Linked DNA regions of Homo sapiens. The protein of the gene in region 3 purifies or fractionates together with the protein of the main gene of each other region. This does not show direct contact. Each region holds a gene or a part of one and is shown on either strand. Other genes may lie near its edges.

What was found. Proteins that work in one complex are often made in the same cells at the same time.
Region 1: the proteins of MRPS21 (region 3) and PRSS35 purify together in Homo sapiens (co-immunoprecipitation; one large-scale study listed by IntAct). This does not show direct contact.
Region 2: the proteins of MRPS21 (region 3) and PADI4 purify together in Homo sapiens (affinity purification with mass spectrometry; one large-scale study listed by BioGRID and IntAct). This does not show direct contact.

What each region holds. Positions count from the first base shown.
Region 1 is NC_000006.12:83,514,692-83,519,529, reverse strand, and holds part of PRSS35 (inactive serine protease 35 precursor), read right to left. Parts: intron 1-4,838.
Region 2 is NC_000001.11:17,306,175-17,311,492, forward strand, and holds the start of PADI4 (protein-arginine deiminase type-4), read left to right. Parts: upstream 1-2,022; 5' UTR 2,023-2,048; coding exon 2,049-2,140; intron 2,141-5,318. UniProt on the Homo sapiens protein: Catalyzes the citrullination/deimination of arginine residues of proteins such as histones, thereby playing a key role in histone code and regulation of stem cell maintenance.
Region 3 is NC_000001.11:150,306,320-150,310,467, reverse strand, and holds the end of MRPS21 (small ribosomal subunit protein bS21m), read right to left. Parts: intron 2,421-4,148; coding exon 2,240-2,420; 3' UTR 1,489-2,239; downstream 1-1,488.

The DNA of each region.
Region 1 (4,838 bases), on a different chromosome or scaffold from region 3:
CCCATTATCCAAAAAGGACTAACTCATTGATCTAAAAAGACACAGTCCCAGTTGAAGGGGCAGCTATAATATTTTGAAAGTCTAACATCCCTTGGCTTCCCCATCCCCCTCATTTTTCCTGTCTTCCAATATAACTGTGACCTTCACTGTCCATTTCCAGATGGCTTGCATTTGGGGCTTCAAATTCCAATTTTGGTTAATGAAAGCAAAGTTGCAGTGATTGCTGCCCACCACTGTGAGTCAGCATACACACAGCTGATTATGGGCTGGATCCTGAAGACAGATTGAGTAGAAGGGAATTAAGGAAGAAGTAAGAATATCTGTGTATGTAGATGAACTCTTACTGATGGAAGAGATGTAATTACACATTTGTACCCAATCTATTAATAGAAGTGACCACACTTGACTACGAGATCACTTACTATTACCCTTTTGTTATTTGTTTATAGTTTCTTAGAAATGTGATTGCTGACAGCGTTGAGAATATTTGTGTATCTGTACCAGCATAGTGGTTATGAGTGCAGACCAAGGAGTGGGAAGGCTTGGGTTCAATTCCCTTTTCACCACTTATGAGGCATGTGCATGTGGGCAGTTCATTAACTCTCCAAGTTTCACTTTCCTCATCTGCAAAGTGGGGATAATATTATAGTAATTTCGACTTCATAACATTGTTATGGAGATTAAATGAGATGATACACGCAAAGAATTACTACTGAGCCCAGAGGATAGTAAGTAGTTAACACATGTTATTTTATAATTATTATCCTACCTTAATTGGTGAATTTGTATCACTTCAAAACAGGTTGTTATATAAGCCAAAATTAGAGATCTTGTAGTTTTCTAAAAAGTCAGTTTTACAGTCAAATATTTTTATTTCAAGATAGTTTCCAACTCACTCTAAAATTCGCTTTTTCTTTGTTTTGTTTTTCGTTCAAGGACAGCTTCACTTTAGAGACTTCCCAAATGAATGCTTTCCTAATTACTCATTTCTATGAATATCCATGGCTCTGTAATATATTTTTCTCATTGCTATTAAACTTAAGTGTGATTAAACACTATGCAGCCACAAAACACTTAAATTGCATTTTCTGTGTCTTATTTATAGCCTGGATCTACACTGGGAATTTTGGAACTGCATCAGACCCTCAGCCTAAAAAGAAACAGAGTCTATGTCAACATAATTACTCTAAGGGAGTGATCTACAATGAAAAAAAAACAACTTTTTGAGTGAGTCTATCTAGAGTATATAGAATCCTATGATGAAATGACATTATACCTTAAGGCTCAGTTTCTCTTTTGTGTTTTGTTTTTTACCCTAGAAGTTTATAGTCTAGCTTAGATAGAGCAGACAAACTAATGAAAGATTAGATGGCTGCCCACTATATTAATATTTCAAATCAATTATTTTTCCTGTCTATGAGAAAGCAAAGATGCTGACTTACCATTGAAGGACCTGCATTGAATTGCTTTCCCTCACTAGGTGACAGATTCACAATTACTTATGCCTTTCTTTTCACCTGGTTCCTTGTAATGTCTAGTGAGGTACTTGTCCATATTTATGTACATAGCATGTTGCCATGGGACACAACTTTGCATTGATCCATCAAACAGTTCCTGGGAGGCTGCTGTGGGTCAGGAATTACTCAGTCATATCAATGACCCCATAGGGCCAACACCACCCTCTACTTTAGTGTGTATGTTAGTACACACCAATGATTGCATGACCACCTTTTAAAACTTGGCTGTCCTCTATTTAGCCATCTGCAATCCCAACCACCTGTGCTTCCTAACACCACTGGCTCTGTTTACATGCATACCTAAATGTGAAGACATGCCCTCATTTCCTCCTCTACTTTCATCCTCCACCTACTCAGGATTGACACACAACAGGGAGACACTGGGGCCTGGCCAGATGATTCTGAATAACTGCAGAGAGAAATGGCTTAGGCAAAAGGCCACAGCAGGAGAGGGGGAGAATTACAAGTGACATAAACAGGAATAAAGCAAGCACTAAAGAAAGCGGTGATGTTTTGGATGACAATTGTAAAAACTTTCATAGTCAGTTTTATTTGGGGGAACAGATGCTGAGGAGAGGGGGTATCTTATGAAAACTAATTCCTGATCCACTGAGGCGCTCCCTGACAGCAGCACTACATGGAGGTAACATTTAATTTAGAGAGTGTATGAGAAAATAACAGTGTCTGTAACGTAATAAAAAAGGGGAGTAAGAACTAGGGTGTTTCAATGATTATGGGGGCAGTGGGCTTTGAAGCCAAATCAACCTTAAGTACACTTGCCACTTGTTACACTGTGATCTTGTGAAGGTTACCTAATCTCTCTAGACATTATTTCCCACATTTATTAGATAGAGATAATATTTGAGAATATTTTTGTGAGAAACTAATATGATAAGCACAATGCCCAGAGCACAGTAAGCACTCCACAAAGATTAAAGCCAATGTTTTTCATATCAAACAGGGGGAGCCAACACTCAGGTAGATATTTACAAGGTATTTCATACATCTCTAACTGCCTCATTGTGGTATGCCAAATATCCTCATCCCCAGGACCTGTGAATATTTCCCACACACAAGAAAAGAGACTTTACAAATACGATTACATTAAGGATTTTAAGGTGAAGTGGTTATTCTGGGTTATCCAGGTGGGTCCAATGCAATCATAGGGGCTCATATAAGAAGGAGGCAGACGGGTTAAGAGTGGGAAGAGCTGATAGATGTAAGCGGAGGCCAGAGCAATGCAGGATCATGAGCTGAGGAATATGAGTGGCCTCTAGATGCTGAAAAAGGTAAGGAAAATTATTTCCTAGAACTTCCAGAAGGAGGAACATAAATGAAAATGTGTTGTTTTAAGAAAAATATGAAGAAATATAATTTAAAACTAAAAACAGAAGATCACAATACAACTTCAGATTTCTTTTTTTTTTTTTTTTTTTTGAGACGCAGTCTCTCTCAGTCGCCCAGGCTAGAGTGCAATGGCGTGATCTCGGCTCACTGCAAGCTCCGCCTCCCAGGTTCACGCCATTCTTCAGCCTCAGCCTCCCCAGTAGCTGGGACTACAGGCGCCCGCCACCATGCCCGGCTAATTTTTTTTGTATTTTTAGTAGAGATGGGGTGTCACCGTGTTGGCCAGGATGGTCTCGATCTCCTGACCTCGTGATCCGCCCATCTCGGCCTCCCAAAGTGCTGGGATTACAGGCGTGAGCCACCGTGCCCAGCCAAAACTTTAGATTTCTGATCTCCAGATGCATAAGATAATAAATTTGTGTTGTTTTAAACCACTGAGTTTTCGGTAATTTGTTACAGCAGCAGTAGGAAACTGCTACACTTACAAAGGTGAGAATCGAGTTTTTACAACAGTCTGCCTGACTGTTTAGAAAGAAAGTAGTAGTAGGGAGTGGCGGAGGCTGTGGCTCACACCTGTAATCCCAGCAGTTTGGGAGGCCTAGGTGGGCGGATCACTTGAGGTGAGGAGTTCCAGACCAGCCTGGCCAACGTGGTGAAACCCCGTCTCTGCTAAAAATACAAAAATTAGCCAGGCATGCTGTTGTGTACCTGTAATCCCAGCTACTGGGGAGGCTGAGGCAGGAGAATCCCCTGAACCGGGAGGCAGAGGTTGCAGTGAGGTGAGATCACGCCATTGCACTCCAGCCTGGGCAACAGAGCGAGACTCCGTCAAAAAAAAGAAAAGAGAAGTAGTAGTAGTAGGGAGTGATTAAAAAGTAGAAAAGGGCCGGGCGCGGTGCCTCACACCTGTAATCCTAGCACTTTGGGAGGCTGGGATGGGAGGATCACTTGAGTCCAGGAGTTTGAGAGTAGCCTGGGCAACATAGGGAGACCCTGTCTCTACAAGTGTGGTGGCGCATGCCTGTGGTCCCAGCTACTCTGGGCTGAGTTGGGAGGATCACCTAAGCTGGGAGGTGGACGCTGCAGTGAGCTGTGATTGTGTCACTACACTCCAGCCTGGACAACTAGAATGAGACAGGGCAACCCTGTCTCAAAGCAAACAAACAAAAACAGTAGAAAAGAATGTTTCCTTCTGGGACTTAAAATATAAATGAAAATGTGTTATTTTAAGAAATAATATACAGAAATGCAATTTTAAAACTAAAAACAGAAGATCACGATAAAACTTCATAGTGGTAGGATGCAATATTGCTAGAGGAAAAACAAGAATTAGAACAGGATAGATAAATTTGTCTATTCAACAAATGCATACCACCTGCTAACTCCGCCATGCATTTCGAAGCCTTTATTTTAAAGAATCTCTCTGATAGTCCTTAACTGTTGAGTTGGACTAGAACATTTCTAAGATTTCTTCCAGCTTTAAAGTTCTAGAGTAAACCACAAATGAGAAAACACAAGTAATTTACTCATCAATGCTTCTCAGGAAGGTTCAATTCCTAGTCATCCAGGGAAGAACTTGCCTGTTATCCATGTTGCTACCACTAGATGGCAAAATTAGCCTGGTGATGGCAAATCTAACGCAGGTATTTAAAATGTTTACACTTACTCAGCTGTGAAATAGATTTTATTTTAAAAGCATGTAAGATTCAGCAGGGGCAAAACTTTTAACTGGCTAATAATATACTAAATGGCTGTGACATAGGGAGACATATGAAATTTATTATATTTAGAAAACCCACCTACCTACAGGCCACAGAGCCCATCCTGATGAACTGAGGGCTGATAATGCTGTCTACAGTCAGACAATTTTCTGGCAGATAGTTTTTCAAAAACAGTTGTAGTGCCAGCACACTTCCAGCATGACCTACAGCACTGTTAACTAGTCCCCCAAATGTGCCACAATTTATTTCAATG
Region 2 (5,318 bases), about 130 Mb from region 3:
TGCTTACTGGCTGTCTCTCTCCCAACAAAAACAAACAAACAAAAAGGCTCTATGAAGGCAGGATTTTTGTCCACTTTGTTCACAGCGTATCCACGGTGCCTGGAACAGTGCCTGGCCATCAATAGGCACTCAGTCAGTATTTGTTGAATTAACAAAACTGCTTTGGGGCTCGTCCTCTTTGTGGCTCGTTCACAGCAAATTTAAACCCCAAACTGCTGAAGAAAATAAGAAAGAAAAGAAGGAACAGAAGAAAACAACCTCAAGAGACCTAAGACTTGGGGTAGAGGCCAGCCCTCCCTCTGATTTGCTGTGTGACCGTGGGCAGGTCCCACTCCCTTTCTGTGCTTCAGTCTCCCCTTCTGCAAAACGAGGACTGGATTGGGTGTTCTCTAAGGGCCCTCCCAACTCTAACAATGGACAGCTCCCTCCTGCCACTTCCCAGTAGAAGCTCAAACTAGTTCTAATCATGCGGTCAGCCAGAGAAATTGGGTTTATTAACACTGTGTGCAGGCAGTCATGTAGATGCGTCAGAACGTCGGACCTGGCCACATCATCATCTGCTGGTACAGAAGATAAATTTTGAGCCCAGAGAAGGTGGTCTGAATCCAGATCCCCACTGTAGGGCTTATGAGACCTTGGGGGTCTCACTCAATCTCTCTAAGTCTTTGTGGTCTCATCTACACATGGGCATCCTGATAGGACGCACTCCATAGGGATGTTGAGATGAGGCAGGATTTGAACTAAAGCCTGTTTGATCCCACAGCCTGACTCTGAATTAATGAGGCAAATTCTTTGCTTCAAAGCCAAAGCAAGCAAACAAAAAACAAACGCAAGATATCCAACCCACGAAACGCTCTATGTTCACGCCAGACTCCCATGCATGCACCCTTTGAGTGCTCCTTGTTGGGACCCATCCACCACCCCCCAGTTGCCTCATTAAAGGCAGAGCCTGGCACCAATGGCCCAGGTGCAACCACAGCTCTGAGGCCACATGGGCATCCCCCTGGCAGGCGTGGCCCACACCTGCACTGTCTGGTCTGACACCCAGAGGCCCTGGCAAGAGGCAGGTATCCTGGAGCATGCAGAGAACATCAACTTCCATGCCAGGAAGCTCATCTTCTCTTCCCAGCTCTGCCGCATTCTAGCTCTGGCACCTTGGGCAAGAGCTAGTCACTTTTACTCTCTGAGCCTCAATTTTCCTTCTGTAAAATGGGTTGTAATAATAAGCCCATATACACCTTGTATTGTAGCGAGATGTAGCTGTGATACAGTCTGGAAAGCACGTGTCATATAGACAGGCAGCTAATGAATCTCACACTCTGGAACTGGACACCTTTGGTTCCAATTCTGGCCCTACCACTCTCGAGCTGTGGAAGAACTGCACCTCTGTTTTCTCCTCTGTAAAATGGGTATAATAATGGCACCAACCTCAGAGGGCTGCTGTGAGGGTGAAATAAGGGGATAATGGTATGATCTAGTTCACGGGTTTGTCGTAATGAGCTATTCTATGTGAAGTGCAGGAAAACGTGCCTGGCATAGAGAATGTGAGCTGTCATGTGGGTGGCCCAGGTGGAGAGACTTGTCCCAAGCCTGGTTGGTCTTTGAACGTGTAGCCTGGCCTGTGACTGCTTACCTAAAATCTCCCCGCTTTTCCCACCTTCTCCTCTCTGATATGCCTGTTTGACATAGGTGAGATTGGATAGATCAAGGTGTTCAGGGCCTCTAGGCAGGGATGGGACTGTGGGCATGAGGACCAGGACCCAACCCCTCAGCCCCACTCTCCACCCCAGGCTTTCTGAGCCATCCATCCTTCCCAAGAAACTGACAGAGCCACCCTGCCACTGGTACCAGCATTGACACCCATCTAGAGGTCCGAGGGGCAGCCCCAGGGCAGAGGAGATTTTGAGAGCCCACACCCCTGACCTGAGTGGGGAGGGGTTGAGCCTCTGGGCCACAGACCGCAGGTGCTGACTCATGGCCTCTGCTGGGCGATATAAAGGAACCAGCCCAGGGGCTTCCTACAGCCAGAGGGACGAGCTAGCCCGACGATGGCCCAGGGGACATTGATCCGTGTGACCCCAGAGCAGCCCACCCATGCCGTGTGTGTGCTGGGCACCTTGACTCAGCTTGACATCTGCAGGTAAGAGGGGGGCCTTCTGGGGTTTTGGAGGCAGGTCAGGAGATGCTGGATGACCCAGTTCTACTGACACAGGAGCATGTGTTTGGCCCAGGCTCTAGGCTCCAGCCTCTGCAGCCACTGCCAGGGGAGTAGCTGGAGAGAGAAGACCCCAGCAGCCCTGGGAAGTGCCAGTCTCATGGCTGTGGGTTCTTTGCCATGTACAAGTGCAAATTCCCCAGGAACACACGACAGATAAATTATTATGGGGCAAACCAGGCCATCCATCTCCCTGTCTTCATCGAGGCAACAGAAGCTTACAGAGAGTCTGTGACTTGCTCAAGGTCACACAGCACGTGTGCCCTGGAAGTAAGGTTAGCCCCTGGGCCTCCTGGTTCACAGCACAGTTTGTTACCCCACATCTCTTAGCTAAGCCTCCCTCAGTGGGTGCATAATAGCGTGGGTGGGGATGGCGAAACGGGGCTCTGTGGCGGCAGAGACTGAGGTAGGAAGCCTGGACCTGCTGCTGGCTAGCAAGGAGGCCTTGGGCAACTGAGCCTCAGTTGCCTCATCTGTGAAATGGGGATAATACTCACATCATGGGCTGGTTATAGGAATTCAATGTGAAAAAATGTGCAGATGTTGGCTGAGTACTTAGCACAGTGGTGGGCCCATCCTTGGTAGTTTTTATTTACTCATTTAACAAATGCTGAGTGCCATGCTCTGTGGCAGGGTCTGGGTTAAACAAGAGAGTTGAGGAATGCTCTCGGGGAGTGTGCAGGGTCATTGTTGTTATTGTAGAACAGGAATTAAAAGAAATTTTAAAACGTGTAAGCAAAAACTCAGTTCTATGTTAAAAAAAAAAAAAACAATTTTCCCTGGAAAAAAAAAAAAAAAAGAGCTGGAGTCCCTTAAAAATTAACTGCCTGTTTTTTTGTGGCTAGTGAGCCTTATTGCTCCTCTTTTTCCAGGCATTGTAAAGACCCTGTTTCTCCAGCTGTGCAGCTGCAAGGTCACTAGACAGATAAACTCAAGCTGTAAAAATTTTTTTCCTTAAAAAGTAAAAAATAATATAATGCATGTCTCAATTAAATAACTGTCTTTGTTTCTTGCCTCTATAATATGCTTCCCCCTGCACAGATCTACCCCCGCCCCATGAAATGCTTAAAAGATAACTTAACTCTTTGTTCAGGGCTCAGTCTTTTGAAATGTTAGCCTGACTGAGCCAGTGAATCTAAATAATAAATCCTCCTCAACCCCTCGGTCTCTCTGATTCCTAAATTATCCTGCAACAATTGCTGTTGTCAGGAATAGGAGTGGTTGCCCCTGGCTTCCCCATCCCAGTCTGGGCATCGGTGGCCCTAGAATGGTGCCCACAGGAGTGCCGGGGACATTTCTTTGCTACTGCCTGAGCCCCAGCAGCCAGAGAACAGCAGGAAATGTCGGGATGGTCTCCCAGGGCCACATGGTGGAGGCAGGAGACCAAGAAGTTGGGGAGAAAAGGAAAAAGAAAATCACCTGACATCATCTGAGGCGCCCCCAACTCCTCTGAGAATGGGTGTGAAGGAAATGACAGGAGCTGAAGCTAGCCCAGGGCCTCTCCCAGCATGCCCAGGCTAGCCCTCTACCCAGCGTCCATGAGTAGTAATCAAGATCACAAGTGCTTCCTCTGGCCCTAGAGAGGTGGGTGGACAGCTGGTCAGTGTTGGGCAGAGAGGAAGGCACTGCCCATTTCTCCCAGAAAGGATGGGGACTCCGGAGTTCACAGGGGCCTCTAAATCCTTCTTTTCTCCTCCTTCAGCCACACGTTGAGCCTGTCACTCTATCCCCTGAACATCTCACGTAACAATGGCTAATATTTACATCACACTTCCTACATTCAACTCATTCAATGGCCTTGGGAGGCAGGTAATGTTGTTATTCCCATTTTACAAAAGAGGAAACAGAGGCTCCAAGAAGTTAAGTAACCCACCTCAAGCCACACAGCTAATAAGTAGGGGAGCCAGGACTCAACCCAGGCAGCCTGACTCTAGGACCCTCCATTCTCCCCATGGGTCTCCGTTCCAGACCTTCCTGTCACTTCTTATCTGTTCTTAACATAGCCCCAGACAGCGCCTCCCTCCCATCTCCTGAGCAGCCATCGGCCTCTTCCTGAACCACACAGGTGGGAGGGCCACTCCCTCCTCACCTCCGCCCCTCATATTCATGCCTCCATAACTTTGCTCAAGCCATTCTCTCTGTCCCCAAAGTCAGGAACCCGGGAGGCAGAGGTTGCAGTGAGCCAAGATTGGGCTAGTGCACTCCAGCCTGGGTGACAGAGTAAGACTCTGTCTCAAAAAAAAAGAGGCAAAAACACCTAACCGAGGGTCACATAAATTAAAGGTGGCAAGCTGGGCACGGTGGCTTATGCCTGTAATCCCAGCACTTTGAGAGGCCAAGATGGGCAAATCACTTGTGGTCAGAATTTCGAGACCAGCCTGGCCAACATGGGGAAACCCCGTCTCTACTAAAAATACAAAAAAATTAGACGGGGCGCAATGGCTCACATCTGTAATCCCAGCACTTTGGGAGGCCGAGGCAGGCGGATCACAAGGTCAGGAGATCGAGACCATCCTGGCTAACATGGTGAAACGCCGTCTCTACTAAAAATACAAAAATTAGCCGGGCGTGGTAGCACGCAGCTATAGTCCCAGCTACTTGGGAGGCTGAGGCAGGAGAATCGCTTGAACCCAGGAGGCGGACGCTGCAGTGAACCGAGATTGTGCCACTGAACTCCAGCCTGGGCAACACAGTGAGTCTCCGTCTCAAAAAAAAAAAAAAAAATTAGATGGGAGTAGTGGCACATGCCTGTAATCTCAACTACTCAGGAGGCTGAGGCACAAGAGTTGCTTGAACCTGGGAGGTGGAGGTTGCAGTGAGGCAAGATTGCACCACTGCACTCCAGCAAGGGCAACAGAGTGAGACTCTGTCTCAAAAAAAAAAAAGTTAAAGGTGGCAAAGCCAGGACTGTCTGACCCTAAACCCACCCTGCTTCGCAGCCCACCCTGCCTCCAAATGCTGGGGAGTGGACTCCCCTGGGCACTGCTCCCTGTGGGCAGAGCTCATTCAACTTCCAAAGGATTTGGTAAAGGCCTAGAAGGGGTGGGGGTCCAGGAGGTGCCAACTGCAAAGGGCAGTGTGCATTCAGAAGCTGCCATCTATG
Region 3 (4,148 bases):
TAGGCTGGTCTCAAACTCCTGACCTCGTGATCCGCCCGCCTCAGCCTCCCAAAGTGCTGAAATTACAGGCGTGAGCCATGGCACCCGGCCTGGCACCGACTCTTAATAATAGCAACACGGCTGTCAGCCAACCAATGGTGGAGGAAACAGCAGGAGAAAAAGCAGAGCAGCTGGTCTTCCCACAGTGGTCAGTTTCCGCAGCTGTCAAGAGTAAAATAATCAGGAGTGACTGCTGGGTAGAGGCAGTGATGGTGGGAACCTCCACTTGAAGTCTCTTTGAGTACTGCAAAGGGCAGTGGTTGTAACTCTAGCAGGCATCAGAATCACCTGCAAGGCTTGTGAAAATAGATTGCTGGGCTCCAACCTCAATTTCCAATATCGAAGATCTAAAGTAGGGTCCCATAATTTGCATTTCAAGCAATCCCTCTGGTGAAATTGATGCTGCTGATCTGACACTTTGAGAAGCACTGCTTTGTGGGTATTTCTGGCTCTGTGCCATTCTCTCTCAACGCTCCATTCCCTCTTTCCTACTATCTACTGAGTCCCACCCATCTATTGCTTTATTTCTTCTCCACCATCCCTCTCTTAGTCTCTGTTAGGAAAACTAAAAGGACAGAAAACAGGAATGAACATTAGGGTAGATTTAAGAATTTCTTTGGGCAAGGATTCCAGCACTCTAGTCTGGTTGATAGGTGTTTTCAGAAGCAGAATTTATTCCAAATACATACATGCATCTTCTCCTCTCTACCTAACATGGAACAGTTTAATAAAAAGTAATAGATGCTTTCTCAGTAAGATTTTGCTTGGGGATTCAAAAAAATTGGGTAGGAAATGGTAGACATATTTCACTACATTAAAAAAATTTTCCGGCCGGGCGCAGTGGCTCACGCCTGTAATCCCAACACTTTGGGAGGCCAAGGCAGGGGGATCACGAGACCAGGAGATCGAGACTATCCTGGCTAACACAGATAAACCCCATCTCTACTAAAAACACAAAAATTAGCCGGGCGTGGCGGCGTGTGCCTGTAGTCCCAGCTGCTGGGGAGGCTGAGGCAGGAGAATGGCGTGAACCCAGGCGGCGGAGCTTGCAGTGAGCTGAGATTGTCCCACTGCCCTCCAGCCTGGGCAACAGAGCGAGACTCCATCTACAAAAAAAAAAAAAAAATTTACCAGCCAGGTATGGTGGCTCATGCCCATAATCCCAGCACTTTGGGAGGCCGAGGTGGGCGGATCACCTGAGGTCAGGAGTTCGAGACCAGCCTGGACAACATGGTGAAACCCCGTCTCTACTAAAAATACAAAAATTAGCTGGGCGTGGTGGCAGGTGCCTGTAGTCCCAGCTTCTGGGGAGGCTGAGGCAGGAGAATCACTTGAACCCAGGAGGCGGAGGTTGCAGTGAGCCTAGACTGCACCATTGCACTCCAGTCTGGGGGACAAGAGCGAGACTTCCTCTTAAAAAAAAGAAAAAAAAATTCCTTACTTCTCCTGGACTTTCAAAAAAGTTTTTATTGTAGTAAAACACAAAATTTACCATCGTGACCATTTAAGGGTATAGTTCAGTGGCATTAAGTACATTCAACTTTTTGAGCAACCGCCATCACCATTCATCATCCATCTCCGTTTTTTTGTTTTGAGATGGAGTCTCACTCTGTCGCCCAGGTTGGAGTGCAGTGGCATGATCTTGGCTCACTGCAACCTCTTCCTCCCCAGTTCAAGCAATTCTCCTGCCTCAGCCACCCAAGTATCTGGGATTACAGGCGTGCACCACCACGCCCGGCCAATTTTTTTTTGTATTTTTAGTAGAGATGGGGTTTCACCACATTGGCCAAGCTGGTCTCAAACTCCTGGCCTCAAGTGAGCCGCCCGCCTCAGCCTCCCAAAGTGTTGGGATAACAGGCGTGAGCCACCATGCCAGGCCATCGTCTCCTGAACTTTTTCATCTGCCCAAACTGAAACTCTGTACCCATTAAACAATAACTCCTCACTGCCCCCTCCTCCAGTCCCTGGCAAATACCATTCTACTCCTAGAGTACTTTCAGACTCAGTTTCTTCTTTCACTTAATAAAAGACAGGGTCCACTGCTGACTAATGGGATTGTTTCTATATTTGGAGGCCTTCTTGCAGACATGTGATTTGAGTTTATTGCAGAGAATGGTAATAGGAAATGGGATTGTACAAAGAAAAGAGATGGAGAGAAAACTGGATGAGGGTTTCGCACTGGGTGTCCCACCCACAGGCCTCAGCAGCCCTGCCACGGATCTGCCCGATTCTTTCGCATCAAGAAGTTGATCTTGCGAGCCATTTCCATGTTGTAGATCCGCCGGCACCTTTCATAGCTTTCCCTCTGTCGCCGGCAGCATGGCTTCTCATAATACCGCCGATGCTTAATGTCCTCAATGAGCCCATCCATAGTGAGGATTCTGTATAAAGGCAAGCAATGAGGTTAGACATTTGGGATCATCATTATTCTTTTCCAGTTTCATAAATAGAAGTCGATTGACCAAACAATTGGTATTTATAAAAAATACAGTGGGAAATGGTGGCAATAGAGCATTAACTGCCTACTTACAAAGGCCTCAATAAGAATCTGTGGGCCGGGTGCAGTGGCTCATGCCTGTAATCCCACCACCCTGGGAGCCCAAGGTGAGCAGATTGAGCCCAGGAGTTTGAGACCAGCCTAGGCAACATGGCAAAACCCTGTTTCTACAAAAAATAAAAATAATTAGCCAGGCTTCGTAATATGTGTCTGTAGTGCTAGCGACTCACGAGGCTGAGGTGGGAGCATCACTTGAGCCCAGGGGAGACTGAGGCTGCAGTGTGCTGTGTTTGCACCAGTGTACTCCAGCCTGGGTGACAGAATAAGACCCTGTCTCAAAAAAGAAAAAAAATATTGTTCAGCATGGGCAACACGGCAAAACCCCGTCTCTGCAAATAATACAAACATTAACCAGGCATGGTGGTACATGCCTGTAGTCCCCTCTACTCAGGAGGCTGAGGTGGGAGGATCAATTGAACCTGGGAGTTCATGGCTGCAGTGAGCTGAGATCCTACCACTGCATTCCAGCCTGGACAACAGAGTGACACCTTGACTCAAAGGAAAAAAAAAAAAAAAAAAAAAAGGACTGGGCACAGTGACTCATGCCTGTAATCCTAGCACTTCGGGAAGCCGAGGCAGGTGGATCACCTGAGGTCGGGAGTTCGAGACCAGCCTGACCAATATGGTGAAACCCCGTCTCTACTAAAAATACAAAAATTAGCTGGGCATGATGGCGGGCGCCTATAGTCCCTCCCAGCTACTCAGGAGGCAGGCAGGAGAAGTGTTTGAACCTAGGAGGTGGAGGTTGCAGTGAGCTGAGATTGCACCACTGCACTCCAGCCTGGGCAACAGAGTGAGACTCTTGTCTCAAAAAAAAAAAATTGGGGAAATAAAAAAGCAATTAATTACATGGCCCTTGCTCTTGGAGAGTTTATAGTCAAAGTTATGTTCTCAAATCTACTCTACCACAACACACCTGAGGGATATGATACAGTACCTGAAGAACATGTCTCCCTACAGCAATGATTCTCAACTAATGGGGCATTTCAGAGACCTCAACTGGGGAGAGCCATTTTCAGTAAGAACAGAATCACTAGGGGTGATTCTTAAGGTGATTCTCTTACTTAAAGTTCCATCCTGTCAGGCTGGTGGCTCACACCTGTAATTCCAGCACTGTGGGAGGCCGAGGTGGGCGGATCACCTGAGGTCAGGAGTTTGAGACCAGCCTGACCAACATGGAGAAACCCTGTCTCTACTAAAAATACAAAATTAGCCGGGCATGGTGGTGTATGCCTGTAATCCCAGCTACTCGGAAGGCTGAGGCAGGAGAATTGCTTGAACCCTGGGGGCGGAGATTGCAGTAAGCCAAGGTTGCGCCACTGCACTCCAGCCTGGGCAACAAGAGTGAAACTCCATCTCAAAAAGATCACTTGAGGTCAGGAGTTCAAGACCAGGCTGGCCAACATGGTGAAACCCCACCTCTACTAAAAATACAAAAATTAGCCAGGCGTAGTGGTGGGCACCTGTACTCAGTAGGCTGAGGCAGGAGAATCCCTTGAACTCGGGGTGGAGGCTGTAGTGAGCCGAGATGGTGCCACTGCACTCCAGCCTG